Regions from separate parts of the Homo sapiens genome. Here all the other regions are reported to be linked to region 1. The links are microRNA targets in miRTarBase. Many come from high-throughput screens and were not tested one by one. Region 1 holds a microRNA gene; each other region holds the end of a gene's coding sequence.

Region 1 (11,332 bases):
TATATGTAGTTTGTGATTTTAAATGCTGTGTATCCCTCATATTGAAGAGTTTGTTGTTTTTTGTTTTTTTCTTTTTAATTTCAGCCTTGATTTTCTTTTAAGTTGGTGCTCCTCAAACCTGGCTTTGCATCAGAATCGCTCAGAGAATTTTTTAAAATACTGATTCCTAGGCCCTACTTCTAGTGACTCTGATTTTGTTTTGAAACTGGAAACTTGTATTTTTTAGAAGCATCTCTAGTATTTTGATGCCAGATTCAGAAATAATTACTATCGTCCTCACAATAAGCATTCCAATGATGTGCAACAAGAAAACTGTTGTTCTTTAGAATGATCATTCCCAATTAGGCACCTTTCCTTCCTTACGTCCAGCTGTTAGAGAAGACTATATCTTCTGCTTCTTCCTTATAATAACAGAGAAAAGCTAAATGGGGCACTTGCGTCCTTAGGAAAGTTTATCACCGAAAACTATCATAAACCTGAAATCTCTCTCAATAATCATCTGTTGTAAGGCAAAAACCCTCTTGAATTAAAATTGCTTTAATCAATTAGGACTCTGGTATTTCGGTAACAAATCTCCATGGAAAAAAGTCTCTGATTTAGATTAGTAAAGTGAGATTCTGGTGTGAATATAAGAAGTCTCAAAGTTCTCCCAGATTCCATTTGTGCCTTTATGGTCCCCTGGTGAGTTTTATCACTGGGTAGAATTCACAAACCAAAAATAAAAAAAAAAAGAAAAACATTTCACACGGGGAACTTAACAAGAAAAAACAACTACCTTATAGAAAACAGATGGCTAGCGATACTAAAGCCGAAAGGCTGTCAGCTGTGTCTTCAGCCTGTTTTTCTATGCTTTTATAAATTGGCAGGAAAAACTCCTTACATTTCACTAAAAGGGGCCCAGCCCATAAATGATTTGCTAAAGAAATCTGAAAATCCATGTTTTTCAATATGAAATATGTAAAATGTTTGAAAACTGATTTTTCAATGAGGATTTTTCAAGCTTCTATTTTGAGAGATGATTCTGGGACATTCCTTGAATTATTCAGAAATGAAGAGAAAATGGTGTAAATAAAATAATAATTTTATGTCAAATTTCCTTTTTTCTCATCTTTTAAAATCTCTCTTTTACGTGCAAAAGCTACTAGGTACTAGGTGACATTTACTTTTGTAAATCACCTATTTGATTTCAAAAGGGACAAGTTATAGTGTATGATTTAGGAAATCATTTTCAAATTAGGAATTGAAGAGCAACTTATCTGTATCATACATCCATTTAAACTTCATCCATGTTAAGATTTAGGGGAAGAGGTTGGATTATAATTCAGCCATTTACCAAATACACATATTATGCAGCTACATTAAAGACTGTGTGGTGGGAGGTTTACCGTAATATAAAGTTTATGCCCTCATGTGGCTTACACTTGTTTGAAATTGTGCTCTCTTAATGGTTCTGCCTGCAGCAGTTATAAATTATATGAGCATATGTGACCTTGAAGCAAAGGAAGATGAAATAAATTAATAGTTAGCTAAAAATGTCTGTATTGTGATATTCTAGAAATCTTTTTGGCCATAGAACTAAAATCTTTTTCCCTCCTTATATTCCTTCAGTTTGATTCAACAAAAATGCGTTTTCTGTCTTCTCCATGCCAGACACTGCCCTGGATTGTGGTGATAGGGCAACGGACAAACACATTCCTGAATACTTTTATTTCTGAAAGAAACAGTCTTGTCTAATTTCACATGAGAATTTTCCTTCCTTTAGTAATTTGTGGGAAGATGGAAGTATTTTGTGGTTAGAACCTATGAGTATGCTTTTAGACTATTTACTCCAAATCCTTTTAGTCACTGAGATATTTTAAGAGGTGAGTCTATGAAATAGACTTCTAGAAGTAAGTGTCAGGATTTGAGTTTTGATATACAGCCTCTTTACAAATTTATTTACTGATTTATTTAACAATGATTTTTGAGCACCTAATATGTGCTCAATTTAAAAGGGCATTTACTTGTAAAGACACTCATCATATTTATTCCTAATTTTTGCTTTAATAGCTAGGCTACTCTCCACTGAAGCAGGGTATCTATGTGTTGTTCATAGCTGTACCCCTTACACCTAGCAAGGGATCTAGGACATAGTGGGTCTTCACTGTAGCCACATGAACTAAAAGGGAAATGAGGAAATAAAATCAGAGTATTGCCACCATATTTAAATAGCCACCTTGGCTCTGAAAAGATTTCAAACAGATCTAGCTAGCATCTAGTATCTCTTCTACACAGATAAGTTTCCATTCCATTTTACAAATGAAATATTAGAGTATAAACCAGTCTACAAACCTACCTTTTACACAAGTGCCTGTGAAAAATTTAGTTTATAAAGCCCAAGTCACATCACAAATGCTTAATATATTTATTTTTATTTATTCAACACATTATTGACTACCTTCTATATCTTAGGCACCATATCAATGTTAGAAATATAAGTGTTAACAGACAGAAAAGATTTAGTCCTTAAAGAGCTTATACTCTAGTGGAAAGAAACAGGAAATAAGCAAATATTATACTTACTAACCATACAATATGTCTAGTAGCAAGAAGTGTTACCAAAAATTCAGCAAGGTAAAGACAAAGAGCTCCAGGAGAAAAGTGAATTGAGAGGAGAGCGGGGACTGAGCTTAATTTTGAATAATCAGGGACAAGCTCACAAATAAAGTAGAATTTGAGCAGAGACCTGAGGGAAATAACATAGTATTTTCAAATGACGATTCTTATTGGAATAAATGTCATCTTTAAGTCCTGTCATCATAAAAAGTGGTATCAAGTTCTTTCTTGGGTTACCGGAAATAACTTTGACAGCTAAGTGAATTGTAAAGTTCATAAAATGGAACAATAAGTTTCTTTGCCTAGGTAATTTCCCAGCAAATAAAATGCAAAGCATCAAAAAGGTTTTTTTCTTCTTAAACTGCTCAAGCCATTGTAAAAATTTCACGAAAATATGAAATTCGCTGAGAAAATTTAACATTTGTTTAATTTCTTGGGTGAAAAAAATGTCTTAATGAATTAGATAGTCTTAAGAGACCACAGACAATCAGGATATGTTATTGGACAAAAAATTTAGGGTCCAAGGTTTACTTTGAGATGCCATTGGACATTGAAAATCTCTTTGAGCAAAAACAGCAACTAGGCCTGGAGCTCAATAACAGCTCTGTCTGGACCCGAAGGAGGGAAAATATGTGATAATTTTTTGTGTAATTAGGCTTCAGGAAAACACATTGATGGTACCCTAATGAAATATGCATTAAAAAACTGAATTGTTGAAAAGAACAAATATATCAAGTATGATTCAATTAGTTTTAGAGTTCCTCTAAGAGAATTTCTTCATCCATATACATAATTTTTAGCTAAATTTACCTCTCATACTTGTTAAAACAAATTAGAGGAGAAAAAGAAATTATACGTGTAAATTAGTAATTATGTATTTCTCATAAGAATACCTAAATATTTCAAACAAGGCAATTCTATGTAATATAATTGATAAAATGTGAATACTGAACTTTGGGTTAATTCAGAGGCTGACAGATTTTGATTATAAGGTATCTATTAATTCATCCACTGAGGTTCATATTTTGATTGTCTTGTATTAAAATGTCTGTTCTTTGAAAAAATAAGTCATTGAGTTGTATGGACATGTAATTAAACATAGTCATGGCAAAGTTCTCTGACCTCAAGTGGCCAGAATAGCCACGTTTTGCATCTATTTTTATGATACGTAATCATGGTCTGGTTTTTAGAGACATAAGTAGAAGTTTCCTACCACATCAACATTCCTAAATAACAGTATCATTTTGGTACAGACAACTTCAGAAAATCAGAGAAGAAAAAAGGGAACTTGTTTTTGGAAAGGTTACAAACCTGATTTTACGTTTTTCTTTTAATTTCTGTTAAAACAGAGGAAATGAACTTTGTGTATTTAAGGGAGCTGCATAGACTTATTAGTCCTGGCTGCAGATATTAAGTAAAAACTATCTTAACTTTATAATAATTTGAATGTACTTTTATTTAAGTCAAGTATCTTTAATATCTTTGGAAAAGAAGAATAGTATTGAAAAACAATGAGTGAAATTCAAATAACCAAATCACAATGTATAAGAAAAAAAGATGCATTCAATGTAGTTTTTAACAATTCATCTCATTTATTGTCAAAATTAATAAAACAGGCTGGGTTCAGTAGCTTACGCCTGTAATCCCAGCACTTTGGAAAGCCGAGGTGGGTGGATCACTCAAGGTCAGGAGTTTGAGACCAGCCTGGCCAACATGGTGAAACCCCGTCTCTACTAAAAATACAAAAATTATCTGGGTGTGGTAGTGCACACCTGTTGTCCCAGCTACTCGGGAGGCTGAGGCAGGAGAATCGCTTGAATCCAGGAGGCAGAGATTGCAGCGAGCTGAGATCGCACCACTGCACTCCAGCCTGGATAACAGAGCAAGACTCCATCTCAAAAAAAAAATTAATAAAACAATATTAATTGAGTGTTCCCTGGCTGAGTGTTCTGGAAATAACAGTTGGGGAGATATAAGCAATTTCTCAGAGATAAAGAAGTTGAATATAGAATGCTCTTGGGCAGCAGTGTAGAGATTAGTTTGAATTCATTAACAGGCAAACCAATCTCTACACTACTGCCCAAGTACGACTTTTTTTTTTTTTTTTTTTTTTTTTGAGACCGAGTCTTGCTCTGTCGGCAGGCTGGAATGCAGTGGCGCAATCTCGGCTCGCTGCAACCTCCACCTCCCGGGTTCAAGTGATTCTCCTGCCTCAGCCTCTCGAGTAGCTGGGACTACACCACCTGCCACCACGCCTGGCTAATTTTTTGTATTTTTAGTAGAGACGGGGTTTCACCATGTTGGCCAGGATGATCTCGATCTCTTGACTGCGTAATCCACCCACCGCGGCCCCCCAACAAGTGCTGGGATTACAAGCGTGAGCCACCACACCCAGCCTATTCAACTTCTTTATGAAAGAAAGAACTTCTTGTGGAATACATGCCAGAGGGTGTTGGCTGCCTTTAATCAGACATCTTGAACATCAACTAACAGCATTGCATTTACTTGGTTGATAGTGATAGGGATGGCATGAAGTCTTTTCCTTTGTTGAGCTGCGAAATGGAAAAAGGAAGACTGAATCTTCTGAGACAACGGAATGAACTAAGAGCGTCAGGCAGCAGGGAAAGATTCCATGCAGCAAGCCAGTTAGGTGTTCATTACTCTGGGCCTAATGTAAATTGAGAAGGGTCCATCCTTACGACAGAGGGGAAGCTAGAAAAAGAAGCTAGAGAGACCACTTCACCAACCAAGTGTTAATGACAGAATCAGAGGAGTTCAGAAGTTATGTTTCACACAAGAAAAAGATTTTTAAAGCACCATATCCTGCTCTGAATGACTATTTTAGTTTTCCTTCAGGTGTTTATTTCTGAGTGAAGGATTGGGAAGACATACATGAAATCGCTGCCACACCCTCTGCTTGAAAATGACCATGCAGTCCAGGGAGGACACAGCCATACAGAATTGCTTGACCCTTTATGAAAGCTCTTCTTTCACCAACAAAAAAGAAAAAAATACTAAAAATGATATGCTGATTGATTTCTTTGGAATCAATACAGGTTGTTAGATCTGTCATCCTCTTCATCCCACTCTGAGAGTTATTGGTATACTTGCCCTCCATTCTGTATTAAAGCCAGTCATGCAGAACCTTATGCATTCTCACCAGCCAGCTGGCCTTTACAGAGTTAGTTATAATCTAAGCCTGAAAATTCCTCTAAGGTAGTTGGCAATATAAATATAACCTTTTGGCAATTTGCTAGACTCTATTTTTAAAGTACATCATTATCAGCTGGATGTGGTGGCTCACACCTGTAATCCCAGCACTTTGGGAGGCCAAGGCAGGTGGATCACCTGAGGTCAGGAGTTCCAGACCAGCCTAGCCAAATGGCGAAACCCCGTCTCCACTAAAAATACAAAAATTAGCCAGGTGTGGTGGCACGTGCCTGTAATCCCAGCTACTCGGGAGGCTGAGGTAGGAGAATCGCTTGAACTCGGATGGCGGAGGTTGCAGTGAGTCAAGATTGCGCCACTGCACTCCAGCCTGGGAAATAGAGTGAGACTCCATCTCAGAAATAAATTTTAGAAAGTACATCATTGTCAACAGTTTTGCATAAAGCAAATTCAAAATTGATGAACTCATAGAATAAAAAAATCCTACATGAAAATGCCTTCCTGGAATTTGAGGGTCAGCAAACAACAAACCAAGGGCAAATTTCAGGAAAATGAAACAAGTTATGTCATAAATGCCATTCAAAAGAGTTGCACATACATCTCTTAAGCTTGGCTAAAATCAGGAAAATAGGGTGGACAATCAGTTTTTATTATTTAGAAAATGAAATTTCTTCTAATCCCAATTAATTTTTCATTAGTAACAACATTAGCTTCTGCATGCCTTATTAACCACATGAAATTAGTACAGACTGAGAAGTTATACAAGGCATTAATTTTAAAGTTTTGAAAAGTTATCTTGCCTTTAAGGATAGTATTCATATCTCCAGCTCATAACGTTGGGTTGGCTGGACTACATATAACATATGTAATAAATCTTCAATTCAAGTCACAACTTTTCTTCTTGTTATCTTTCTATTCCTATTTTCCATTTCAGCTTACATCATGGCTGTAGTCAAATAATAAAAAATGACTGGCTTAATTTAAAACCATATACATTCTAATTCAAAACAACCAAATTATAAAAACAGAACCTACCACAGATGCTCATGGATTACTGGACTATTACCTCAACCCTATTAGCAACTTTTTTCTTCCTAACCTGGATATTTAAGTAATACATAATTTATAATGGAGATATTTTATGAGAAAATATTGCCACACAGTCAGTTGTGAGTTATTAAGAGTAACACATGGGCTTTGAACGCTCTATGAATCTGCAGAGTACATATCTGGTAAAAGAAATACTGCCTAAGCTTGAAAATGAAGTACTGCAATGATTTCTGACAAATCCTACTTCTCTGTGTCATAAATATTGGTTACAAACAGTGAACTGAAGAACAAAAGATAATACTCCACATGGCAGTTTATCATTCATAATCCGTAGGCTAATGTCTTTCAATTGTTTTGGCTTCAAGTAGTTGCAAACACTATGCTTATATCTACACATTTAGGAAATCTCCAGATTAATGAAAAAGAACACATATTTTATAAGAGATATTAAAAGATCATTCAGTTTAAAAGGATTTTGTTTAAATTGGTAGTAGCTATAATAGTGGTAATAGGAGAGGCAGCAATAGAAGCTTACATTCATTGAATACTTAATATGTGCTATATATTGTCCTAACTGTTTTATATTCTTGATCTCACTTAATCCTCAATAAACAGTATCATTCCCATGAGGCAACCAACAGTAGCTCACAGCAACTCCCATCCCTCATAAGTGATAGGCCCTGGATTTGAAACAAGAGAGTGTTATTGCAGGTGTAAACCTTTCATCAGTAAGGAGGATCAGCAGAGAAAGAGGTCCACCAGTCACATTTATTCCCTGGATGGGCTATGTTCAGGGAGGTGTTAGAATAAAATGATTGCGAGTGGGATGGGACTTACTGAGCTAGGCCTGACTAAAGCTCTGTTTTCTCAGCACTGAAAGTGCAGAAACTTAATAGTTAAGTCACCTTGTATTTATCAGATTAATTTTTAATGCTAATCTATGCTACACATGTTCATAGGAAATTAATTTGTGTATAAAAAGACAACATATTATTCTGCAAACCAGAAAGTTTCCAGTGAGCTAATCAGCATCTTCTAATGAAAACCTTACTGCTATGTACACAAAAATACCTGAGTACAAATTTACATGTATATAAATACATATTTATATATATGCTTATATATGTATATACTTATATATATGTAAAAGCTTCATATGTGTGTATTGAGGATATAGATATTTTCTTTTACACAGGTGTGGTTACACAGGTTAACTAGGAGGTAGTTATATATACACTCACATTTGGCATCTGTATATTTTTTCTTTTTTATAAATATATATGTATATAAAAATATCATACATGTATAACAATGGAGAAATCTTGTGTTTGTATGTTTACACAGACAGACATAAACACTATGAAATTTTATGATGCTAACAATAATACAATGATATGGAGAGTGGGGAAAAGAGATAGTCAAATTTCCAAACCTGATCTTTCTATACTTTTTAATGTTATATTTTATAATAGTTATTATATTTTATCTTACATTTATTTTTAATACTTGGAATTAGACCTAAATTCAACCTTATTCAAGTAATCACACTGCTTTTTTCCATTTTCTTGCCACAAGTACATTGTCTTGCCAAATATATTTAGTTTGGTTCAGTTAGTAAAACATGGCAAGCTATAAACTTGCTTCACTTTCAGCTACTTACAATCTGAACTTTATTTTCATTTTAACTGCTGATGGCCCAAACTTTTTATTGTCTGATAATATTCATCATTTTGAAAAATAGAAGCCAAATGTCAAATAAAATGCTGAATCTAAATTCCATCTCTTTAGTGTAGTAGAAATCTATATTATAGGTTCTATAATTACAATTATTAATCTACAGTTAACAAATGTTTTCTTCGTTCGTGTTTATTCTGAATAAAACTAACTGGACCAATCTCTTCAAGCAAAAACACAAACATAATACATTAAATATAGCAATAGAATGTGATTTATGGATCTTGAGTGAATTATCATTGGTCTTTTATAGGAAATGACAAGAGGTATAAAATTATCACAGAAAATGAAGTCCTACTCTTACATGAGAGATGTCTTCTGAAGTTTTGAAATCTAATAATAACATATATATCAAGGCCACGCCTAAATCCAAATTCTGTATTGGCTCATGTTACTTGATGAAGTCATTTTGTACAAGTAGCAAGAAGGAAGACTTATGTTCTGATCACTATTGAAGAACACAGGATTAGAGAAATCCAAATTTGGTGAGCTGGGTTGATTTTGTACTGAAATTTTAAGTAATATTCTTTTGATGTAGTCACACATTGTGTATTAAACAAAAAATGATACTTTTCACTTAGAGGAAAATGCTTTTTCTTATCTTATTAATTTGTTAGCCATGGATCCAGGAAATATTTTCCTTTCTCCTCTACAATAGAAAAAACAGCAGCACATGGACTAGAACCTGAGCTAGCTTCTAACTGTGCAGAAGACAGTGAGTTGGGGGCGGGGGATGGGTAGATGGGCTGTTGAACTGGGGCTTGTGCAATACTCATGAAGGCTTGAACCACCATTCAGCACAAGGTGATGGGTGCATAAATGATGTGTGCCTAGGATTTCTCAGACCTGGCAAATTTTAAAGAGAAGATAGAAATCAATATTTGTGTTTGACATCTCTCAATTGTTTGATGTTAATGATGTAATTCTAATAGTTTTTCAAAGCACTGTTTGAGCCCAGGAAAATATCTGTGTGGGCCTAATCCAGTTGAGGACTCCAGGTTTAGGATATACATATATAAAATGGAGTCTTGCTCAGTCACCCAGGCTGGAGTGCAGTGGCATGATGTCGGCTCACTGCAACCTCTGCCTCCCAGGTTCAAGCAATTCTCCTGCCTCAGCCTCCTGAGTAGCTGGGATTACAGGTGCATGCCACAATGCCCAGCTAATTTTTGTATTTTTTAGTAGAGACAGGGTTGCACCATGTTGGCCAGGCTGATCTCGAACTCCTGACCTTGTGATCCACCCTCCTCGGCCTCCCAAAGTGCTGGGATTACAGGTGTGAGCCAATGCACCCGGCCCGGTATATTTTTAAGGTATTATTTCCAGCCTCTGTCTAGCTCTACCCTTATCTTACTTATTAATATGTCTTGATTTGCTTCTGTTTATATATCACATATAGGAAAAATCTGAGAAGAAATGCTCAGATTTCTTCTCAGGCGATTCTACTGTCTCTGCTTCCAAATATTAACTCATACATGCTTAATTGAAATATATATAGATATTTGTATATACAACTATTAGTACACACATATATATTTCCTTGCTCTGTCAGCTGACAGAACACAGAAGCAACAACTCCCAAGTAGCAATGAACACACCTAGGTCCCAGATTGTGGTTTCTGATAGCATTCTCCAATATAAGGAACAAGAGCTCTTTGAATAAACAGCTGATTCTAGGACTGGGCCAATAAATATACAAAACGAACCTAGAACATCTTATAGTAACCGAAAGTAAAAAAGTACATACACACAAAAAAGCCCACATGATGGGGATATATCAAAGGGACACAGAATACAACTGAAAGACTTTCCAGTGGCCAAAACTGAAACAGTTTGACAAATAAAATAAGCAAAGTAGCATTCAAATATCACCAAAAATGTAAAATAAATATCTATGAGTCCATACCGATGTAAATACATACAAAATATAAAATAGAATAGGACAAATCTCCTATGCAGAATTGCAAATGATTTATGTAGCTACCCCACCCTTTAAAAGTTGAAGAGTAAGTCTCCACTCCTTAAGTAAGAACTGTATGTACATAGTGGCTTCCTTCCAAAGGGTACAGAATGGAAAAGGGAGGAAACAGCAAATTTACAGTGAAGACACAGGACAAATACCACCCCAGACAGGTGATCAAATTTAACACCAGGCTTGGCGCGGTGGCTCACGTCTGTAATCCCAGCACTTTGGGAGGCCGAGGCAGGAGAATCACTTGAACCCAGGAGGCAGAGTTTGCAGGGAGCTGAGATCACGCCATTGCACTCCAGCCTGGGCAACAAGAGTGAAACTCCCTCTCAAAAATAAATAAATTAATTAATTATTAAAGTTTAATATCAGTAATAATAATTCATGTTGATAGTTGAGAATGGCACTTTACCTCCTCCCAACACCCAGAACTCCAGTCTAATCATGAAAACAAAAATCATACACATCCTAATTGAGGGACATGGTACAAAATATCAGGCCAGTACTCCTGAAAAATCGTCAAAATCCTAAAAAACAAGGAATGTCTGGAAACTGTCATAGCCAAAAGGAGCCTAAGGAGACATGCAACTAAATGTAATATGGGATCCTGTGAGGGATCCTGGAACAGAAAGAGGTCATTAGACAAAAACTAAGAAAATCTAACTAAAGTATGACTCTAGTTAATAGTAAAATATCAATATTGGCTTATTCGTTGTGAATGTAAGATGTTAAGAAGAGGGAAAATTGGGTCTAGATTATTTGAGAACCCTTTGTACTATCGGTACAATTATTTTGTAAATTTAAAACTTCTAAAAT
Region 2 (11,332 bases), not on the chromosome of region 1:
TTCTTATAGGGCAACAGTCATTGGATTTGGGGCCCATTCTAAATGCAGGGTGATCTTATCTGGAGATATTTAATTACATGTGCAAAGACCCTGTTTCCAAATAAGGTTACGATGACAGATACTGGGAGTTAGGACTTGGATATATCTTTTTCGGGGGGACACAAGTCAACTCACTATAGTATTACAGGATTTTTTCTTTTATGCTTTAGTTTTTCTGAAAGTGGTTGAGATGTAAAATTCTGTGTGGTTGTATTAAGTGTTTATTCAAATTCAGCAATCATGTTTTGAATGCCTATGAGTTGCTGTGAAGAGATAGAGGAAAGATTAGGAGCCTGCCTCTGAGTTCTTAAATTATGGAAGATAGACATAAATAAACTAAATTTGAGTTGAAATTGATAATTACTATGGAGTATCGGTACAAAGTTCCATTGACATTTAGAGTAAGCCTAAGAAAGATACCAAGGGAAAGACTTATTGAAAGGGAATTAATTCTATTTGAATTAGGCTTTGAAGGATGATAGGATCTTAACTGGCAAAAATAGGATAGTGTATTTTATAGCATAAAATCAAGGAGGTGGAATTTGGGGGGGTGGTGGTGAAAGTATTGTTTATAGTATAATAGTACAGTCTTGGAGAGTTAGGACATAAGCGTAATTGTTAAGTAACATTTGAAAACAGTAGATGACTACAGGTATCAAAATATGTGCTGTATTGCTGGAGAAATGAGATTGATCTGGACTGCAATATTTGTTAGGTTTTACCTTGAAGGATGGGTTAGCTTGAATAGAGGCTACATAAGAGAAAATCTAGTTTCAACATGAAGGAGCAGAATAAGGCCTGGAGTCAAGAATGAGCGTGTCACTCAATATTTGAGGGCCTAGCATTTTCAAAGACATTACAGTAGTCACCTCTTGTCTGTGGATTCAAGTGTTAAGTTGCATGCCATTCTGAGTAGCGTAATGAAATCTCACACAAGAGTCATCCCCTTGTCCAGCCTATCCATGCTGTATATGCTACCTACCATTAGACACTTAATAATCTTGGTTATCCTATCAACTATTGCAGTATTGTAGTGCTTGTGTTCAGGTAACCCTTATTTTACTTTATTGTGGCCCCAAGGTATAAGTGTAGAGATGATGGCAATTGGATATGCCAAAGATAAGTCATTAAGTCATAAACTGAAAAGGTGAAAGTACTTGAGAAGAAAATTATATGCAGAGATTGGTAAGATCTAAGGTAAGAACAGATCTTCATGAAATTGTGAAGAAAAAACATTCGTGCTAGTTTTAAGATGAAAAAGGCATTAGCCCATTTATGCCTAGTGTTTTATTATTGGAACGTTAAGCTTGTGAGAGTTATTTATATCCTGCTGCTCAAGGTCATTGCCAAGGTCTGATTTTTCACAGATTTTGCAACCTCCGGTATAAATGGGTTAAATTTGTGGGTGGAAGACACGAACAGAAAGAAATGTGTTCCAGCTGACGTCAGGGTGTTGCCGCGAAAGCACTGAGCCTATACAAACATTCAGCAAGGGATCTCCTGAAATGAGTGATACCAAGCCATTTGCTGCAAATAAGGGATGGTTACACAGATTCAGGAATGGGTTTGGACTGAAGTATTTAAGAATTACTGAAGAGGCTGTGTCTGTTGATGAAGAAGCTGCTGCCTCATTTCCGGCAGAGTTGAAGTTAAGGAGCAAGGATACCATTCAAAGCAAGTCTTCAATTGCAGTGACATCAGGCTCTTCTGGGAGAAGATGCCCAATAGAACTTAGATTCATAAAAGTGCAAATGCGGCGGTATCAGGGCATACAGCATGGAAGAACAGATTAACTCTGGTACTATATGGCATTGCTGCAGGGCATATGATAAAGCGAGGTGTAGTGTATAGAGTGAAGAACCTACATGATCTCGAAAACAAAACAAAATATTATGTGTCTTGGCAACATAATCAGTGTGGGTGACAGCCATTTTTATGGAATGGTTCCACCAGTGCTTCATCCCAGAAGTGCAAAAATACTTGAAAGAGAAAGGGTTAGAATTTAAAGTATTAATAATGGACAATACATGAATCTGTCTGCTATGAAAATGAAAATGTTGAGGTGGTATTTTTACCTCCAGATAAAACCTCACTGCTTCAGTCCCTGAACAGGGCATCATTCGGTTTGTCAGGGCCACATACAACTGCCTGATATTTGAACACATTTGGTCAGCAATTGCTGCAGACCCTAATACGTATATAATGCAGTGCTGGATATCATTCACTATTGCTCATGTGATAACATTCATCAAAGCTGCAGTGGATGAATTAAAACCAGAAACAGGTAAATACCTGCTGGAAGAATGTGGAATTATATATATGATTTAAAGGCTTCCTAGGGACCCATGGCAAGTTTAAATCATGTAGCAAGACAAGACAATCCTTCACAGAACTTGTGAAGGATTTGCTGATGTGCTTGATGAAGAGCATATCAAAGGCCATCACGAAGTGTTAACAAATGAGGAATTGGAAGAAATTTTTGAGTCATCTGCAGAGGGAGAGGAAGATTAAAAAAACTGAAGCAGAATAGCCAACATAGACATTAATTAAACTTGCCGAAGTGTTTTGAATTGCACAGACATTAAACAACAGAATTATAGAATACGATCCTCAGATGAGACACAGCATTAAAGTTACCAATATGATCACCAAAGGATTACAGTCTCTGCAGCAACACTTCGATGAGCTGAAGAGTCAACAACTTCTGGTTACAGTGTTCTTCCAAAATTTTTCAGCAAAAAGACCCCAAAATAGAAATCCTTCACCTATTGAGGATCCCCAACCATCAACATTGTCTGCTCCTTAACCATCAACATTACCTTGGCTCAGTGATCCAGGATTACCCGAAGTTATTTTGATGATAATGTAGCCTAACTACATCACTTATACCTACATCAGTCACCTCATTTCATCTCTTCATGTAGGCATTGTATGACATCTCACAGCCTCACAAGGGTGAGTACAAGATATTTTGAGAGAGAGAAACCACATTTGCATAACTTTTATTACAATATATTGTTGTAATTGTTCCATTTTGTTAGCTATTGTTAATCTCTTAATGTGCCTAATTACAAATTAAACTTGATCGTAATTATGCATGCATAGGAAAAAACAGGCCGGACATGGTGGCTCACGCCTGTAATCTCAGCACTTGGGAAGTTGAGGCGGGCACATCACTTGAGCTTAGGAGTTCGAGACCAGCCTGGGCAACATGGCGAAATTAATTAGTCAGAAATATGTATATACCAACATACTAATATGTTTCAGCTATAAATACTTCTAACATTTCACATGTATATTTATGTAATCACCACAATCAAACTACAGAACTTTTCCACCACAAGGCTCCCTTTATAGCCACATTCTCCTTCCCTTCAGTCCCAAGACCTGGCAACCACGAATCTTGTTTCCCATCTCTATAGCTTTATTATTTAAGAATGTTACAAAAACAGAATCATACAGTGTGTAAAACTTTAGGATTGTCCCCCCAAACCACCCAAGCATAATTCCCTTGAGGTCCATGCAATTTGTTACATGTATCAGTAGTTTGTTCCTTCATATTACTATTTAGTATTCCATGGTGTGGACATACTAAACCATTCACTCTTTTTGAAGGACATCCAGGTTGTTTCCGGGTTTTGGCTATTATAAATGAAGGTGCTATGTAACATTTGTGAATGTTAAGTTTTAACTTCTCAGGGATAACTGTCAAGTAGTACAAATGCCAGTTATATGTTAAATGTATGTTTAGTTTTATAAGAAACTGCCAAGAATATTTTCCACAGTGGCTCTACTATTTCATATCTCACCAGCAACGTATGAGTGGTCCACTTATCCAATTTCTCTTGCATCCTAGCAAAACAACTCTAAAATTTATCATTTGGAACTGTCTTTTCTTTCTGCAATGGTATTACGTGTCCTTTTAGAATTGAAATCAAGGGTAGAAAGGTTAGATTTAGTCCAGCCTCCCATTTCATATTAGCTGTAGTAACAATCCCCTTTACAACATTTGATCATTATTGCCACTTAACACTTCCAGGATTAGGGAGTAGTATCTTTCTTTCTGAGGGAGTTTATATCAGTTTGGGTAACAGATTCTCATTGTTCATTTTACTGCTTTCCTATTTCTTCCTCATCTTCCATAAAAGGCACAATAATAAATCTAAGCTTGTTAAAACAGAAACAAAAACAACACAAGTACTAAAACGAGGGTTTTTGTTTGTAAAACTGTCAATTAGGATTTTAATTCATGGTCAGTGAAGACCTTCAGGATTTTCCCTGCCCTGCATTTTCTTGCCTTTTTCTTTCAGATGCAGGGATCCAGAGTCCATCTCCATTGTGCCCTGTCTTATGTAACATCATCCTAGCTCTAGATTCTTTAATTGGTGTCCTTTCCCCAGACGTACATTAGGTGTATGGCTCCAGGTTATGACAACAGCCTTCCAGAAGCCTTAGACACCTGAAAGTGATAGCAGTGCAGAAGCAGAAAGGTGCCTAAGGATTTCTACCAGCTTGTGGTAGAAGAGTGGCTTGTCTGGATGGTTTGAGGGAAATGACCAAATAATAACCTACCTACACCAAGCATTGTACTTTTCCTATATGCTAACAAGTTTTAAGATGTTTCTGAACAAGTTTTAAAATATTTCTGAAAATGAAATAGTCTCAAAGGAGTTTTGATTTTGCAAGATCACTTAGCAAATGATCCAAGGATAACTGACAGGATTCTATATTGTGTTGGTTGAAAATTAAGAATCCTGAGCCATATTCCAGACCTGAATAATCAATTTCTGGGGTGAGGTGGAGCAGGTAAGTTCCCTGGGTGCTTATTTAGCATACCAAACTTTAAGAACTGATTATCTTTCCTTTCATATATTTTGAGCAAAAACTGTACCTTTTAGGAACAGTGCATGTTTAGGCAACAGGTGAATAAGTACATATAGAAACAGAACTCCAATGCAAAGTAGAGTGATGTACAATAAGAGGTGTAGAGAGCTATGGGGTTTCAAAACAGGAGGAGAGAGCACATTATTAACTAAATAGAGATGAAGGAAGGCTTTCAGGAGTAGACAGCATTTACAAATGACTGGCAGTTAATTTTCTTTGATAATTTTTATTATATACATATCAGTACTCACAATACGTTGCTTATTTAAGATGGCTGTTTATAAGTATAAAGCAGTTTGAGCAACACTGATTGTGCATTATTGTACTTCAGATGAAAAATCCTTACATGTGGAATCAATGTCTTTTAAAATTTCAGATAAAGAATTTTCATTTGAGGAGACATACAATTGTAAGTGCTCATTTTTTGTCAATTTTAAGACACCATTATGTGTAAGAAGGATTAATTTTACCATAAAATTACAAACACCCTCCATGTCTTGACATTCACATGAAAGAACAGCATAACATTAATCATCCAAATGCATATCAGAGCAAACTCTAGGCCTTAGTGTGAGGTGAACACGGTAACTGCTACATTATGGAAATCGGTTGGGCCTTAGTTAAATATTGTAGTATTTTTAAAATTTGTATATTGAAAAAGACAAAATGAGCTGTTAAGTGATAAACAGCTTACTCAATTTAGCATAACTTTAATTTAGAAATGGAATAGTGAAATTAAAAAAAGCATATGAAGCAGATAAACAGTATGTCTTTAGAAATATTAAAGATTTTTACTCTGTTTACAAGTTTTGCTTTTTTGGTTATGCCTCTTAAATATCTGTCTTTTTACTTTGTCTATAAAAATAATTGTCCTTAGTATTCCTAAATTCTTTTCCAAATAAAGCAATTATCGTTTTTATATGGTAAGAAGTTACTGAATCATAGGTTTAAGATCAGTGGCACAAATCATACATGTAGAAGATTATGTAACAAATTCATTGTTAGGTAAGGAGTCAGAGAGTACAGTACAGTAACAGCCATACAGGAGAGGTAGAATTCTTAATCACAGTTTTATAGAAAAGATGCAGTAGTTTATATCTGTACCCTGCTTTATTAGTTATGGTACTGTAAATTTGCTTCTCATTGCAAATTTAACAGCGCAAAAGGGAGGGGTATTCATAGGCAAGGATCTTATTGACCTTTGTTCTGCAAGTGTTGCAGAGGATACCCCTAGACACCTGAAGCATTTTCTTGGCCAATTAAGGTAATTGATCATATACGGCATTTACCTCATTTTTAAAAACCTTGCCAGTAGGGAAATCTAAGCTGCTCTTCTCCCAGGGGCCTAAGAGGGAAATGTATCTCTTTTTATACTACTATGAGTGTAAATGAAATCACTCTCTGGTTATCATTATTGCTCATCAAGAATTCCAGCATTACTAACCTGTTGAGGGGTTCTATACCCCAAATTTTAAGTTTGTTTCTAACTCACAATGTAGTCATAAACAACGTTATAAATGGGCATAACTTAAAAATTATAGTTCATTCATGATGAAGTTAAATTACTAGTACTTGAGTAAGACCCCCATAGACTTCAAAAAGCTAGATGGCAGAAACTTTGTTGTATATATGGGTTATTCACATTTAGGTGTTTAAAACTTGGGAGTCTATGTTTCTAATCCTTACTTCAACATCAATAAATAAAGTGTTCAGAAAGGCCATTTTAATAAAAGTTGTTATAATAAAAATTTTTAATAAATATGTACACCCAGTGCTAAACCTTACAGTAGGGCTTACATTTTATAAAATGTACCTGCTTACAAAAATAATTCAAACCAGAATTCTTGTAGAAAATAAAAACCTACAGCCAAAGTTTCTTCCAGCTAACTGGAAATTAATCATCTCCTTTGATTTATGTTATGAGTAGGATGTCATGATGAGCCAGTCAGATTCTAGATATTTATTTATAGTTCTACTTAAGTGAATTTTATTTTGGATTAGGTTTTCTCAAGTTTTTCTAAATTCTTTCCTGTTTCTGATAATTCTTAGAGCTCAGAAAAGGAGATATTTATTTATGGTAGGCCCAGATCATTTTAGCAATATTTCCTTCATAACTGCTGGTAATAATGAATTATCCAAGTCAGCAATCATGTTAAAATTAACATAACATGATTATTAACTGTTGACAGATATTAACTTGACAGATACTATTAAAAATAAACTTATTTTACCTCACATTTAATTTTAAAATCCTACACTTTAGTTAAGGGTTAGAGAAAATGTGTCCCTATGGAGGAGGAAGCTTTTAAACTATATTCTTCATTTCAAAGAGAAAACATGTCCTAATTTTAGTAAGTGTAACTTTGTGTTTTTAAGAATCGTGAAAATGTCAGCTTTTGGGAATGTAAGCAAAGTACAAAGACTAATGCTTTCTGCTAATATGTTACACTGAAATGTATTTGGTTATAAAAATCTCAAAAACCTAATTGTATTTCAAAGCTATTATTCTATTTACATTATAGGAGAGATGCATATGTAAATAGAGAAAAGTTGGGCTTTTGTAGTCTAAAGATTTATTCAATCCATCATTAGGTAATTCTCAGGTGATTTATAACTTAAAACTGAAAACTTCCACAGTTAATTTGTAACTGCCGCATTTACAAAAAAGTTCTGGGTAATAGAACCTGTTAAAAACAGACTGGTGTTGCAATTAGGCCCAATACTCATTTATTTAAATCACCTAAGACATTTGCAAAATTTTTCAAAGTTAGGAAAATGCAGTTATTAATATGGCTTCATTCAGTTAAACCTATATTCTGCAAAATATTCCTGTTACACACTTAAGTACAACTGGATCAGCAGGATTACTTGCACAGAAAGTGAAGACTTAATTTTCACATTAAAATTATACCTGTTTCCTACTTTTATATCTCAAAATATTTTGGAGAAGACCATTAATGGTCTTGACTGTAACAGTTTATTGCATTTTTATGCCTCATTTTTCAATGTTACGTACTCTAGTTTGGAGTTTTAAGTTCTACTTTTCCTCTTATCTTCAAACAGACTCTTCAGCATATAAACTTGAATGGCTGACACCACCACCATGACCACTAAATTAACCATAGACCAGAAATTGACTCTATCAAAGTTGCTTTCTTGTATGTTTCGATCACGAGCTTCAAATGCTCTAAGCAGAGTTTGTATGTGCCCACTTTTGCTTAGTCTGGACTTGATGCTGTTGATGGATTCCTGGAGATAAATAAAATAATTTTATTATTAAAGAATGCTCAGAAATTTTAACTTAATTAAAAAATGAGGCTGGGTGCAGTGACTCATGCCTTGTAATCCTGGAACTTTGGGAGACTAGGGCAGGAGGACCCCTTGAACCCAGGAGTTCAAGACTGGGCTGGACAACACAGACAGACTCTGCCTCTACAAAAAGATGGGTATGGTAGCACCAAGTGTGGTCCCAGCTACTTGGGAGGCTGAGGTGGGGGGATCACTTGAGTCCAGGAGGTTGAGATTGCAATGAGCCATAATGGTGCCACTGCACTCCAGCCTGGGCAACAGAGTGAGTGAGACCCTGTCTCAAAAAAAGTTTTTTTCAAAATATGCTTTATGTTTTTTATCCAAACACAATTTTAAGTTAGATGGCTGCACAATTCAATTAAAGGGCAGGTACTATTTATATTACATTAGAGATTCTCTGTAAGGTTATATAATAGTTCTCCTGACATATTTATATTGTTTATAAGTAGTTATTTAACAAGGGAACAAAGCTACTGTGAATTGAAAATAGGTAACATGAAATTATTCTGAGTGGCATAGCATCAGGAGTTTTACGTACATTATCTCTTTCTTAGTCCTCACACAACCAAAGGAAATGACTAAGGTTTTTTTTTTTTTTTTTTTTGTCGGGGGATGGAGTTTGCCTAGGCACAATCTCGGCTCATTGCAACCTGAGACTGTGCCTGGTCAAATGATTAAGTTTTTAGAGATGGGGTCTTGCTATATTGGAGTGTAGTATCTATTTATATGTGTGACCATGGTTCACTGCAGCCTTGAACTGGGCTCAAATGATCCTCCCCCTAACCTTCTGAGTAGCTGGGATTACAGGTACCTGCTACCATGCCTGGCAAATGATTTCATTTTTAAAAACCCAATTGATATAACTTTAGGTATTTACCTATTACATAATGCATGTGTTTATAATATTTCCTTCTTTGTATGTTTATCTGAACAATTTAGTATTCAGTAAAACACCCAATGTTTTAATACCACAAAATAGTTGTGAAATTAGAAAACATTTTACTTTTCATATGCCTGCTGTATAATCAGAAGCATAATCTATTTATAATTTAAAAATTCTAACTGCACATTTATAAAACAAACTTACCAAGATGCAGTCTTATTTGCACATCTGAAGCTATTTTTATAATAGGGTCCTGGAAGATAAGTTATTTGAAAACTATAAAAGGGCTATATTAATATAAAATAAAATTAAGCTGATACTTGAGGTCAAAGTATTTATGGCAAAAATAAAATATTAGAAACAGATTTTCCTGGATAATGCAGATAAAATGCTTAGTTCAGTAACTTATTACCATAGTAAGGCCTCTGGCTGTTAATAATTTTTATTTTATTAGAAGACCATACTGACCAGGATGTCTTCCAGTTTCATATCCAATATATCTGTGCCAGTAATATATTTCTTCCAATCTTCTTGTTCTTGTGCCTGTTCTCCCATATTATCCAGGATTAATTCAAAGAAAATCACCTTCTCAGAAATGGTGCTGAATGTATTGTCAAAGCAGAACATGTAATCACCAACTTCAGTCTCTACACTGTATAAAAAAAAGTACATGTTTTAAGTTACCTGTATTTCTATTTGTGATGAAAAGCAACTAAAGGTAAAAATAAGAAGTAACAGGCTGAGTGTGTTGCCTCACACCTGTAATCCCAGCATTTTGAGAGGGCAAGGCTGGTAGATCACTTTAGCTCAGGAGTTTGAGACCAGCCTGGGTAACATGGCAAAATCCTGTCTCTACAAAAAAATAACAAAAATTAGCAGAGTGTGAGGATTGCTTGAGCCCGGAAGGTTGAAGATGCAGTGAGGCATGATCATGCCACTGCACTCCAGCCTGGGCAACAGAGCAAGATCCTGTCTCAAAAAAAAAAAAAAAAAAAAAGAAACCAACAAAACAAAAAACAAATAACATAGTTTATAGTAATTGGACAGCTTACCCATAAATTTCCTTAGTATTGAAAGATAATTTATAATTTCTTGGGAAAGAAGCAACCTGAAAATATATATGTTCAAGTACAACTTAGACATGTTTGGCATTTACTCAGTAAATTATGGTTAGTGACCTCATTTTTGGAAAAGGATAGAATTAAAAACCTGTATACATAACTCATAATAAACTTTAATATTTATACATTATTAAAAGTATTTTATCATGAGTTCAATTCATATGCAGATATGACTGCCAACCTACCCTACAACTGAGATTAAACTGAGTTTTGTTTTCAAAAGCAGTGATGGATTGTCCTAAATGTCTTCTTCCAGGCCTCTTACTGATTTTGCCTATTAACTGCCACTGGCTCCCTTATAGATGTTTATGTTTGATCCTAAATGCTTTTTTTGAGAATTAAATAAAACTAGTTTATATTTTATTATTTAATTCTATAAAGGTAATTCAGCCCATCATTAATTATGCCAAGTGCTGAAGAAAAAAATGAATAATATCTGAATTACCAGTACCCTAGTTAAAATTAGTTTCCCATATTAGCGAAAGTTAAAAGCAGGGCCAGGTGCGGTGGCTCATACCTACAATCACAGCGCTTTGGGAGTCTGAGGCAGGATTACTGTAGGCCAGGGGTTCGAGATTAGCCTGGGCAAAAGTGAGACCTTGTCTCTACAAAAATTAAAAAATTAGCCGAGTACACACCTGTAGTCCTAGCTACTCGGGAGGCTTGGTTGAGCCCAGTACTTTAGGCTGCAGTAAGCTATGGTCACACCATTGCACTCTGGCCTGGGCAACATAGTGAGACCTTGTCTTTAAAAAAGAAATTACATTTAAAAGAAAAAGAAAAAGCCTACTTAAGAAAAACCAGTGACATACTCAGATGTTTGCTGCTCTTACAAAATTAATATAGCTAAAGATAAAAGCTTTGTTTAATGTTTAAAAAACAGATTTGTAGGCCGGGCACAGTGGCTCACGCCTATAATCCCAGCACTTTGGGAGGCCGAGGCAGGCAGATCACGAGGTCAGGAGATCCAGACCATCCTGGCTAACACGGTGAAACCCCGTCTCTACTAAAAAGACAAAAAATTAGCCGGGCGTGGTGGCGGGCGCCTGTAGTCCCAGCTACTCAGGAGGCCGAGGCAGGAGAATGGCGTGAACCC
Region 3 (11,332 bases), not on the chromosome of region 1:
GGCTGGAGTGCAGTGACATGATCTCAGCTCACTGCAACCTCCGCCTCCTGGGTTCAAGCGATTCTCATGCCTCAGCCTCCCAAGTAGCTGGGATTACAGGCATGCGCCACCACACCCAGCTGATTTTCATATTTTTAGTAGAAACGGGGTTTCACCATGTTGGCCAGGATGGTCTCAATCTCCTGACCTCATGATCCGCGCCCCCCAATCCGGCCTCCCAAAGTGCTGGGATTATAGGCGTGAGTCACTGCACCTGGTCAGGATTTTTCTTACTCAAAGTTTCTCAAGTGATTCTAATGTGCAGTCTGGGCTGTGAATCACTGATCTAAAAGAACACCTACTTACCGAGAAGTTAATACAAACTCACCCTTCCCTGAAAATGGGGGAGAGAAATGTACAATTACCTAGCAAATATGCAAGAATGATAATATCACAAAGCAGAAATTTATCTTAGGATCCTAACATTTTGGAGCTAGGAAGGAATTTAGAGATCATTGAGAGTGGTGGTTCTCAGAGCATGATCCCCAGACCAGCAGCATCAGTGTCAGGTGAAAACTTGTTAGCAATGCACATTCTGGGCTGGACGCAGTCGCTTCTAGCACTGTGGGAGGCTGAGGTTGGCGGATCACTTGACCTCAGGAGTTCAAGACCAGCCTGGGCAACAATTCGTTTATCATTCATAAGACCATCACTGTGGCCTTAAGGCTATACAAAAGCCACTTAAGACTACCCAAGAAGTCACTACATTCTGTCTCCTGGTATGATTGTCTTTAAACTATCCCCAGTGGTAGACTTTCAGATTTTTAGCCAGATTTCCAATTAAAAGTAACCTAACATCTTGCTCAGTGACATATTTCAGTGATCAAAACATTGCAATAAATTGAGTTGCCCTTGTGACGATTTAAACCCTTGATCCAGAAGCCCCACATGGCGGCGCATGCCTGTAAGCTACTCAGGAGGCTGGATGGCAGGATCCCTGGAGCCCAGGAGTTTAAGGCTGCAGTGAGCTATGATCATGTCACTGCATTCCAGCCTGGATGACAGAGCAAGCCCCTGTCTCAATCAATCATTAACTAATTTACATTTAAAAAATAAACATTCAATCCATCCTCACTGGGGATGGTGGTGAGAAGCCACAACCCTCCTCCTTTGAATGTTCTGTGTATTTGAGGACCAAAATTCTCAGTTTACTCTTCTGTCTATACCATCGTTCTTTCACCAAGTTTGAAAACATAGAGTGACTTACTGTAACCTCTGGCTTGCAGAAGAACATGTTGCCAGGTAGGGTTGGTTGCTACAAGCATTGAAACATGACTCTCCTAAATAAATCAATAAATAAGATTGTTGGAAGGATACAGATGCCTCTGACTCACAGATTCTCAGTAATCAGGGTTGTGCCAGGGACCCTGGAGCAGAGGTGAGTGAACGAACAGCTTCTTCAGGTCTACTTGAACTCAGTGTCATTCGTCTTCCATCTTTGTCTCTCTGCTAATGAGTCAAAGCACTTGAGAGAGTCCACCTGGCCAAGCCTCAACATGTGTCCAGCCCTTGGTGTCCAGGGCTCTTTGCTTGCCACACTGGCCAAGACTGTGCAGAACAGGAGAGGGGTAGTTCCCAAAGAGAATGAAAGTACAGTTACCAAAAGAAGACAGAGGGGTACCAAGAGGCTGAAGATAACCCTCAAGTCACTGACCAGATACTGCACCAGGCCAGGAGCCACGTCTTCTTATCTTTGTGTACCATCCCGAAGCCCGACACATAGTGAGCCCTCGGTAAATGTATGCTCATTTGAACAAAACAAGCTGTGACCAACTGGAGAATGGGTCTTCCTGGTAAATGATTGCCACCATGAGTCCCACCGAGCCCTGAGGTACATGCTTTCCTGTGGAATAAAAAAGGCTCTCAGCATACCCTATCTACCCTTCCCTCCAGTCCTCACCCCTCGGCCCACCTTCCCTAGCCATCCACTAGCAGAGAAAGAGGGAATCTGGAGAGGTGGAGAAAAGACTTAGGCATGTAGAAGGAGGGAAGGAAAACAATCACTGGGCCAGAAAGGCTGATTTTAATCCCCTCCCATCCTCCTCAGGTTCATACAGCGCGTTAGTAGCTGAACTAGAGCGAAACCGGTCCACACCCCGCCCAGTGTTCTCTCCACGACCGTGACCTCCCATGCATTAATGCTCAGTCTTCACAACTCGTTGCTAATGTGACATGGTCACTTAGACACAGCTTTTTTTTTTTTTTGAGACAGGGTCTCGCTCTGTTGCCCAGGCTGGGGTGCAGTGGCACGATCACAGTTCACTGCAGCCTTGGCCTCCCGGGCTCAAGTGATCCTCCCACCTCAGCCTTCTGAGTAGCTGGGACTACAGGCACACACTAGCATGCCTAGCTAATTTTTTATTTTTATTTTTTTGTAGAGACAGGGTTTCACCATGTTGCCCAGGTTGGTCTCAAACTCCTGGGCTCGCGCGATCTGCCTGCCTTGGCCTCCCAATGTGCTGGGATTACAGGCATGAACCACCATGCCCCAGCCTAGACACAACTTTTAACAATGAAAGAAAACATTGGTTTCTGCTAAACAATTTAATTCTATGGGAAGCTATTTCTGTATCTAAAAACACCACGGTAACCATTACATCCAGCAATAAATACCATAATATACACTTATAGAGCAAAACTTACCAACAAGTCTTAAAGGTCTGTGTATACTTTAACCTGTACACTTTTATCCAACAACACTATTGCTAAAAATGTATCCTAATAATCACAGATATGTAAAGAAACTAAACAGATGTTCACTGCAGCATTATCTGTAATGTGGGAAACCAGAAAAAACCTACAGGTACAACAATAGGGGAGTAGTTAAATCAAAGGGAGGATTCATGCACTGCATTATCGTGCAACATCAGAGTTATTGCAGAATATTAGGCTGGGTGCGGTGACTCACACCTGTAATTCCAGCACTTTGGGAGGCCAAAGTGGGTGGATCACCTGAGGTCAGGAGTTCGAGACCAGCCTGGCCAACATGGTGAAACCCCGTCTCTACTAAAAATACAAAAATTAGCTGGGTGTCGTGACGCGCGCCTGTAGTCCTAGCTACTCAGGAAGCTGAGGCAGGAGAATCACTTGAACCCCGGAGGCGGAGGTTGCAGTGAGCCGAGATCATGCCACTGCACTCCAGCCTGGGTAACAGAGTGAGATTCCATCTCAAAAAAGAAAAAAATTTGCAGAATATTAAATTTCATGTAAACAGGTCATTATATTTACAATACATTAAGTGAAATGCAGATTACAGAATAACATGTAGCACACAGCATTTTTGCAAAAAAAAAAAAATTCGTAAAGATAGAAAAAGACTAGTACACGAAAAATATTAATAGCAGTTATCTCTAGGTAGTGAGATTATGAAGCTTTTTTTTCACTTTATTTTCTTCACTTTGTCTTCCTAAATTTTCCGCAAGTAACATTGTTAGATTTTTAGATTACAAATAACTTTAAGACAAAAATTATTTCTAATTATCCGGTAGATAAAGGAATGTCATTAACAGTGCTGTGGCTGAAAAATGTTGAATACATTTTCTACAGGAACGTTTAAAATTAGTCTGAGTATTCTAAAATTCTACCTGTTTTTCTTCTGAGTTCACTTCTTACAATCAACACTTACTGAATTACACTTAAAAAAATTGTTTTTCTTGGTTGAGCACAATGGTTCATGCCTATAATTCCAGCACTTTTGGAGGCCAAGGCAGACGGGTCACTTGAGTCCAGGAGTTTGAAGCCAGCCTGGGCAACACGGCGAAAACACATCTCTGCTAACACAAAAATTACAAAATACAAAAATTAGCCGGACGTGATGGCATGTGCCCGAGTCCCAGCTACTCAGGAGGCTGAGGTGAGAGGATCACTTGAGCCCAAGGGGTAGAGGCTGTAGTGAGCCAAGATCACGCCACTGCACTCCAGCCTGGGCACTGGAGCGAGACCCTGACTCAAAAAAAAAAAATTTTTTTTTCTACTCCAGCTTACTTCTAACATCTGGTTCTGGGTATATTTTCCTTGCGATAACTTCTCTGTGAAATCATCACCTTCTAAGACCTTATTCTCCCTGAAAAATACTTCTCTTGCTTACCCTAAAAAGTAGCACAAACATGTGACTTGGTTTGTGAAAGACAAAGCTGCCAGACATATTGAACCACTGATCTCAGAAAACTAACAGCTGGGAAACAAAATCATCCCTGCCCTATGGTAAACTCTCCTCTAGGGTCAATTAAATGACTCCCTAGAATGCTAATGCACACATATTATGTGACTGGTATCATACTGAAATCTATATTGAAAGTCATGAAGCAGGTATCTTGAGCGAAGGCTTCTAAGAATTTTCAAAAGCTGATATGCAAACAAAGTATTCAGTCATGATGATGTTACAGGCAGCGAGCACACATCCCAGTTCAAACTGGGATGAGTCGGTCCCAGTTCAGACCTGTTTCCCAGTGTAGTTATTATTAAGACCCCCTTTTTCTCACTCTCAAAAGCCCCAATGTGGATGGTAAGTTACACAGTCAACTTGATGGAATGTACATTTGCCTAGAAAGGTAAAAGGGGCATAGAAATTTCATTCATCCCTAAGAAAAACTTAGTCCTCAGGATCCTGATTCCAGATACAAGAGAATTTGAAGCACATAAAATAAAAGCACTATTTATTTATTTACCTATTTATTTATTTATTAAGTAGAGACAGGGTCTTGCTATGTTGCCCAGGCTGTTCTCCAACCACTGGGCTCAAGCAATCCTCCTGCCTCACCCTCCTAAAGTGCTGGGATTACAGGTGTTAAGCCAGGGTGCCCCGCTGAAACAAACTATTTTTAAGCGTTTAGTGGAAAGGCACAAAACGTTTTGTCGAAAATGATTAAAATCTATGTCATCATTAAATATTAATTGTACTTAATTGTAACATTTTAAGGGAAATGTTATGAATGACACTAGGCTATGATAACCTAGTTCATCTTCTTGCCATTTTTCCATATATGAAACTTCAGAACCAATCATTAGAAGATCACTAAGAAAAAAAAAATCGCCAAGACTCTTAGTGGAGATTTAATCTTCCATAAAACCAAACTCAATGCATTTTAGAACTAATGTGGCCTCTCAAAAATAATCTTATTAATGTATCATTCCAAAACCTGCTTTGATTTATCCCTGTGAAGGAAACATATGGCCTCTCTCTGGAGAGACATACACATAAGCATGTTGGCAAATGATGGTGTCACTCAAACACTCAATAGTGCCTTCTGCTGGTGCAGAAGTGTTTTTTTTTTTTTAACAAATTCGATTTGAAAATACTTTTCTTATAAACTGAAAAATAGAAGTAATCTTGTCTTTTTCATTCTTTAAGTACCAACAGGGGCAAATTTAGAGACTAACTTGTATATTTCTTCAAATTCCAAGTAGCTCATATTATCCTTGCTGGAATTCATATTTATGATAGTCAAAATGTTTAAAAAGTATTACCTATTTTGGTAAGACAATTATAAATGTTTATTGTTGGGTAAAATATACAAAATAGAGCAAGGCGTAGTGGTGCAAGCTTGTAGTCCCAGCTACTTGGGAGGCTGAAGCAGGAGGATTGCTTGAGCCTAGGAGTTCGAGTCCAGCCTGGGCAACATAGCAAGACCCTGCCTCTAGAAAAATAAGTTTTAAAAAATCCAATTCACTTAAATGTGGTTTTATTGATGGACAGTTTCTTCCCAGAAAAGCAAAAGCAGTCCTAAAATATCCATGAATCCTTGACTTGTTAATGGTTCCTACCAAAGGAATATTACCTAGTCTTTATATAGAAAATCATTTTGACATAGATGTGCATTTTCATTAAAATTTTAATATTACTATTTTAATATACTTAATGTATTGCTTCTGAAAATGTAACCTACCACTGAATTTGATCATCTATCTATATTCTCCCCACAAAAACTAAATTGACTTCCTGGTACACATTGAACATCACACACAAATGTTTAAAATACTAAATATCACACACAAATGTTTGAAATATTGACTTTATTAGGAAAACATTTGATAGTTCTATTCGGTCATATAATCAATCACCTAATTTTAAAACTATGTGGCCAGAGGACATCAATTACAATATGGATTTTTCATTCATTCAACGAATATTTGAGCACCTACAAGTGCCAGACATTGGAGGTACAGGGTAAACAGGAGGATCCTTGCTCTCACGGAGCTTACATTCTAGCAGGAGGACAATATTAATGTTTATAGGAAAATGATGAGTTTATGACAAAGGAAGTAGATAGTGTTTTACAAGAGCATAGAGTAGGGAAGCTAATCCAGCACAGGGAGGTCACAGAGACATCCCTAAGGAAGTGGAGTTTAAACTGAGAGAAGCAAGTGCTTAAACTGAAGGATGTGTTGAAGAAGAAGGGAGAGTAGAACAATTTGGGCAGAGGGAACCTTATAGACCCTAAGGTGGGAAGGTTCAAAGAACTGAAAGAGAGCTAGAACAGCTGGAGCCGTTCTCCGGTGTAAAGAGGAGTCAAAGAGATAAGATTAAAGATGTGAAGATTAAGATCTTGGTGGCATTCAGGGATTGGCACTTCTACAAGAAATCACTGAAGGGAGTAATCTGACATTACTTTTCACTTCAGGATGGCCATTCTAACTCCAGGGGGTAGACTGGACTAGGTAAGACTGGAGGCAGGTAGACCTCTTCTAAGGCCTGCGATAGTGAAAGACAAAAATAAGTGGGGAAATTCAGGGGATAGTGAAAATCAGTAGGACTTAATGAGCAAGCCAGAGGTTCCTCCACAACAACCAGTACAGATGTCCAGTAGACCTACTGGATATGCAGGCCTGCAGCTCAGGGGAGAGCTGGGTTAAGAACCGTCAAGGCAGTAATCATCTGCATTTAGATGGCGAGTGAAGCCATGACAGGGGCTGAAATGGCCCAGCAAGAATAAATCAAACCATGAGAAACACATACATTTAAGAATAAGGAGATGTGGTCAGGCGCGGTGGCTCACACCTGTAATCCCAGCACTTTGGGAGGCCGAGGCGGGTGGATCACTTGAGGTCAGTAGTTTGAGACCAGCCTGGGCAACCTAGTGAAATCCCGTCTCTGCTAAAAATACAGAACTTAGCTGGGTGTGGTGGTGCGTGCCTATAGTCCCAGCTGCTTGGGAGGCTGAGGCACAAGAATCGCTTGAACCCGGGAGGTGGAAGCTGCAGTGAGCCGAGATCACACCACCGCACTCCAGCCTGGGCAACAGAGAAACACCCTGTCTCAAAAAAAAAATAATAATAAGGAGATGTCATGGGCTCGGGGGAGGGGGAAATGGGGAGCGCTGTTGTTTGAATGGTATAGTTTCAGTTTGGGACTGAGAACAAATTCTGGAGATGAATGGTGGTGATGGCTGCACAGCAGTGTGAGGGCACTTTATGCCACTGAAGTAACAGATGCCTTTCAAAAATAAGCCCGCTAAAATATCACCAAGCATAACCAGCAAAACAATCATTTCAGTGAAAATACAACTTTATATTAATCATCTCAATAATACAGATTACAGAACTGAGTTTACAGATTACAGAACTTTTCATACTTTGTGGGTCAGAAAGGATAACCGTAAATTACTGTCTCCGCTTTATGGGTGGTAAAACTGAGCCACAGAGAAATTTCTCTAAGAAAATTTAAAAGGAATTGATGTTCATTAAATAAATATCCTCACTGATTTTTTTAAGGTAGAAAAGTACAATGCACAGTGTTAAAAAAATTACTGTAACAGCCTCATGTTCGAGAAGTCTAAAATTTTAAGGCTACTACATGTGTTAATTTTCAGTACATGTCCAACAGAAAACATCCTTTATTCCAGTTACATCCTGAAGATACCGAAGTCAGTCTTCTCTATTGGTGCGTTGAGGGCTGCACTAAAACTGAGACCCAAGACCAGTCTGGTGTCTGCTGGATCAATGATCCCATCATCCCATACCCTGACAAAAGAACAAAAAAAGAGTTATGAATTTACCACCAAACTACCATTTATACACTCTCCATGTGCAGAAATGCCAAGGAAGTTTTCCTTCAGGTAATATATGGATCTACTGATTAGCATCCATGTACCATAATCTCACAACAGAAACTACGTTCAAGACAGAGGGGGAAAACGTGGAAAAAAATGATATGACCTTCATCCCAGGCCACCACAGAATGTCATGTCAGGCTTAAGGCTTAAGGAACTACTTTTATAAGAGATCTCAAAGTAACCCCTAATTTGACAATACGTTTACTTATTTCAGGAAAAATTTTCCTATTCCTTTTCTTCCCACACAAATATATAAGCCAAGTTGGTGTATTCTGTCATTAATATGCAGAACCACATATACCCAGGTAATAACCTCAAACTTTACTGGAAAATGTATATTCCCCAACCCCCATCCAAACTCTTAAGAAACTATGAAAATTATTGAATAGGCTTCAGTACATTTTATCTTATTTATTATTATTATTATTTTTGAGATGGAGTCTCGCTCTGTCACCCAGGCTGGAGTGCAGTGCAGTGGCACGATCTCAGTTCACTGCAATCTCCGCCCTCTGGGTTCAAGCAATTCTCCTGCCTCAGCCTCCCTAGCAGCTGGTATTACAGGAGTGCGCTACCACACTTGGCTAATTTTTGTATTTGTAGAAGAGACGGGGTTTCGCCATGTTGGCCAGGCCAGTTTTGAACTCCTGACCTCAGGTGATCCGCCCACCTCAGCCTCCCAAAGTGCTGCGATTACAGGCGTGAGCCACCACACCCGGCCAGCTTCAGTACATTTTATTAATAAAATAGATACCTTCAAATGTAGGTCTTTATTTTTTGCTACAATAGGAAAAACAATAACTTTAAACTGCTTGCAGAAGAAACTTTTAAGTAGAAATTTTAGTTTCCTTCTCATTGACAACCTCAAATGTATAACGAAAAATGACTGAGAAATATTACTTTTTAAAGGTTATTAGTAGGTGGCAGTTTGCTTTTTTTATATAAACTCCCTTCGGTATCTGAACCTGGCATCAACTATTAAACCATTCTTACATTGACAGACATGAATCAAACCTTTGCTCATAAAACATTCATAATAGGGACCCTAAAGTATCAACACCCAATAAAAAGAAAGCCACTCTTGTCATCTGCAACCAGGTGAATTGATTACACTCCCTCTGAAGCCTGCAGCACAGCAAGCATGGTGATGAAGGGGCTGCTTAATAATGTTCATTAAAAAGACTGCCCCAGGTAAGAGGCACTAATGAAATGCCGGATAAAAGTTTGATTATAAAAACAACTGAGCAGAAGCAAATTGGCACGCTACATATGTAACCTATTAGGATTAAGGAAAACATTGTAGGTTTCAGTAACTGATAATAACAAGCTCTGTCTCTGAAAAGACAGATCTAGCCATGTTCAAACCTAAGCAGGCCAGGGAATTTTACTGTGAAGCTGAGATTTACTAAACCCAAGGAAGGTACCATAAACTGGCTTGGAAATCCTTTCAGCTTTGAAAGAAAGCTGCTGTCTCCATGCCACCAGCTGTTTCAACAGAAGGGTTAAACATCTACAGATCTGGCCAGGTGCAGTGGCTCATGCCTGTAATCCCAGTACTTTGGGAAGCCGAGGCGGGTGGATCACCTGAGGTTGGGAGTTCGAGACAAGCCTGACCAACATGGAGAAACCCCATCTCTATTAAAAATACAAAATTAGCCAGGCGTGGTGGCACACGCCTGTAATCCCAGCTACTCGGGAGGCTGAGGCAGGAGAATCCCTTGAACCCAGGAGGCGGAAGTTGCAGTGAGCCGAGATCATGCCATTGCACTCCAGCCTGGGCAACAAGAAACTCTGTCTCAAAAAAAAAAAAAAAAAATCTACAGATCCACAGAAAACTTTACTGTCTGTTAACATTTATTTCCAAAGATAAGTCTCTCTGGGCCATTTACTCTTCTGCCTTGAATGTAATCCATTAAAAAATAATAATAATGTTAGTATGAAAATAATAAAAGATGCAATCTTTCTCAAGAGATGATTTATCTTAGCCAGGGCTGAAAAACAAGCTAACAGCTCACACAAAATACACAATTTTTCAAACTTTAATATTTCAGCTGTCCCTGTGTATTTCAGTCAAAATCTTATGTGGAAAAAAAAAACTATAGAAAAGCTTAACAATATATATTTTATATTTCATCTCAAACCTCTTATACGGCTTTCTATTGCTTCTTTCCATTTACTGGCTACTATATGTCTGTTTACACGATGATAAAATCAGGAACATGTTTAGCTCTCAAAGACTATAAAATATTTTGTTCTTAATTAAATGAATCAAACCACCACAATAAAATATACCTGTAAATTTGTTTGTAAAAATATATATTCAGCAAAAAACCTTTAAAAATTCCCAAATATTGGCCAGCCACGATTACAGGTGGCTCACGCCTGTAATCCAAGCACTTTGGGAGGCCGAGGCAGGATCACTTGAGCTCAGGCATTCAAGACCAGCCTGGCCAACATGGTGAAACCCCATCTCTACAAAAAATACAAAAAAATTAGCCAGGTGTGGTGGCACATGTCTGTAGTCCCAGCTTTGGAGGCCGACGCAAGAGGATTGCTTGAGTCCGGGAGGCAGAGATTGCAGTGAGCTGAGATCACGTCACTGCACTCCAAACTGGGCAACAGAGTGAGACTCTGTCTTTAAAGAAAACAAAAACAAAAACACATACACACACCCAAATGGTATTATTTATCTCCTCAAACTAATTATGTTCTTGAAAATCAGTATGTTTTGTCTTTGTATCCACCAAGGAACCATTCAAATGATTGTAATGGACTCTAACTTTTGCTTTTTTTTTTTTTTTTTGAGATAGGGCCTTGTTCTGTCACCCAGGTTGGAGCACAGTGGCATGATCTCGGCTCACTGCAGCCTTGACCTCCCAGGTTCAACTGATCTGCTTGCCTCAGCCTTCTGAGTAGCTGGGACTACAGGTGCACACCATCACGCCTGGCTAATTTTTGTATATTTTTTGTAGAGACTGGGTCTCACCATGTTGCCCCGCTAGTTTCGAACTCCTGGGCTCAAGCAATCTGCCCGCCCTGGCCTCTCAAAATGCTGGGATTATAAGTGTGAGCCACTGTGCCTGGCCTGATTTTCTTTTCTCTCCCCTCTCCTCTCCAGTTTGCCTTCGCCAGCATAAATTACAACATAAGCTAATTTTACAAGATGCAGAAAGAGTTACTTTCTTTTTTCCATCTGCCCAAGGGATGAAAGGAAGACATGAAGCTTAGATTAGTCTTCGGAATGC

The links. The annotated mature microRNA hsa-miR-3129-5p reads GCAGUAGUGUAGAGAUUGGUUU and lies in region 1 at 4,654-4,675, opposite strand. An mRNA with a match to its seed (bases 2 to 7 or 8) in the 3' UTR can be bound and repressed. Matches are read on the target gene's strand: a 7mer-m8 pairs with bases 2 to 8, a 7mer-A1 pairs with bases 2 to 7 and ends in A, and an 8mer does both.
Region 2: miRTarBase lists TMED5 as a target of hsa-miR-3129-5p. Seed matches in the 3' UTR shown: 7mer-m8 at 6,009-6,015 and 8mer at 3,579-3,586.
Region 3: the mRNA of MCCC2 is a reported target of hsa-miR-3129-5p. Seed matches in the 3' UTR shown: 8mer at 7,085-7,092 and 7mer-A1 at 6,783-6,789.

What each region holds. Positions count from the first base shown.
Region 1 is chr2:189,128,429-189,139,760 of GRCh38, forward strand. MIR3129 (microRNA 3129) reads right to left here and starts at 4,683; the gene lies at 4,608-4,683. All of the region lies in intron 1 of COL5A2 (collagen type V alpha 2 chain), which reads right to left.
Region 2 is chr1:93,146,717-93,158,048 of GRCh38, forward strand. TMED5 (transmembrane p24 trafficking protein 5) reads right to left here. Exons shown (of 4, transcript NM_016040.5): 3 at 9,584-9,767; 4 at 3,026-8,172. The coding sequence ends at 7,954. Among named protein-coding and RNA genes, the nearest start is that of TMED5, 28 kb to the right of the region's middle. RefSeq lists a silencer at 1-33.
Region 3 is chr5:71,653,409-71,664,740 of GRCh38, reverse strand. It overlaps MCCC2 (methylcrotonyl-CoA carboxylase subunit 2), which reads right to left. Exons shown (of 17, transcript NM_022132.5): 17 at 6,035-7,998. The coding sequence ends at 7,881. Among named protein-coding and RNA genes, the nearest start is that of CARTPT, 60 kb to the left of the region's middle.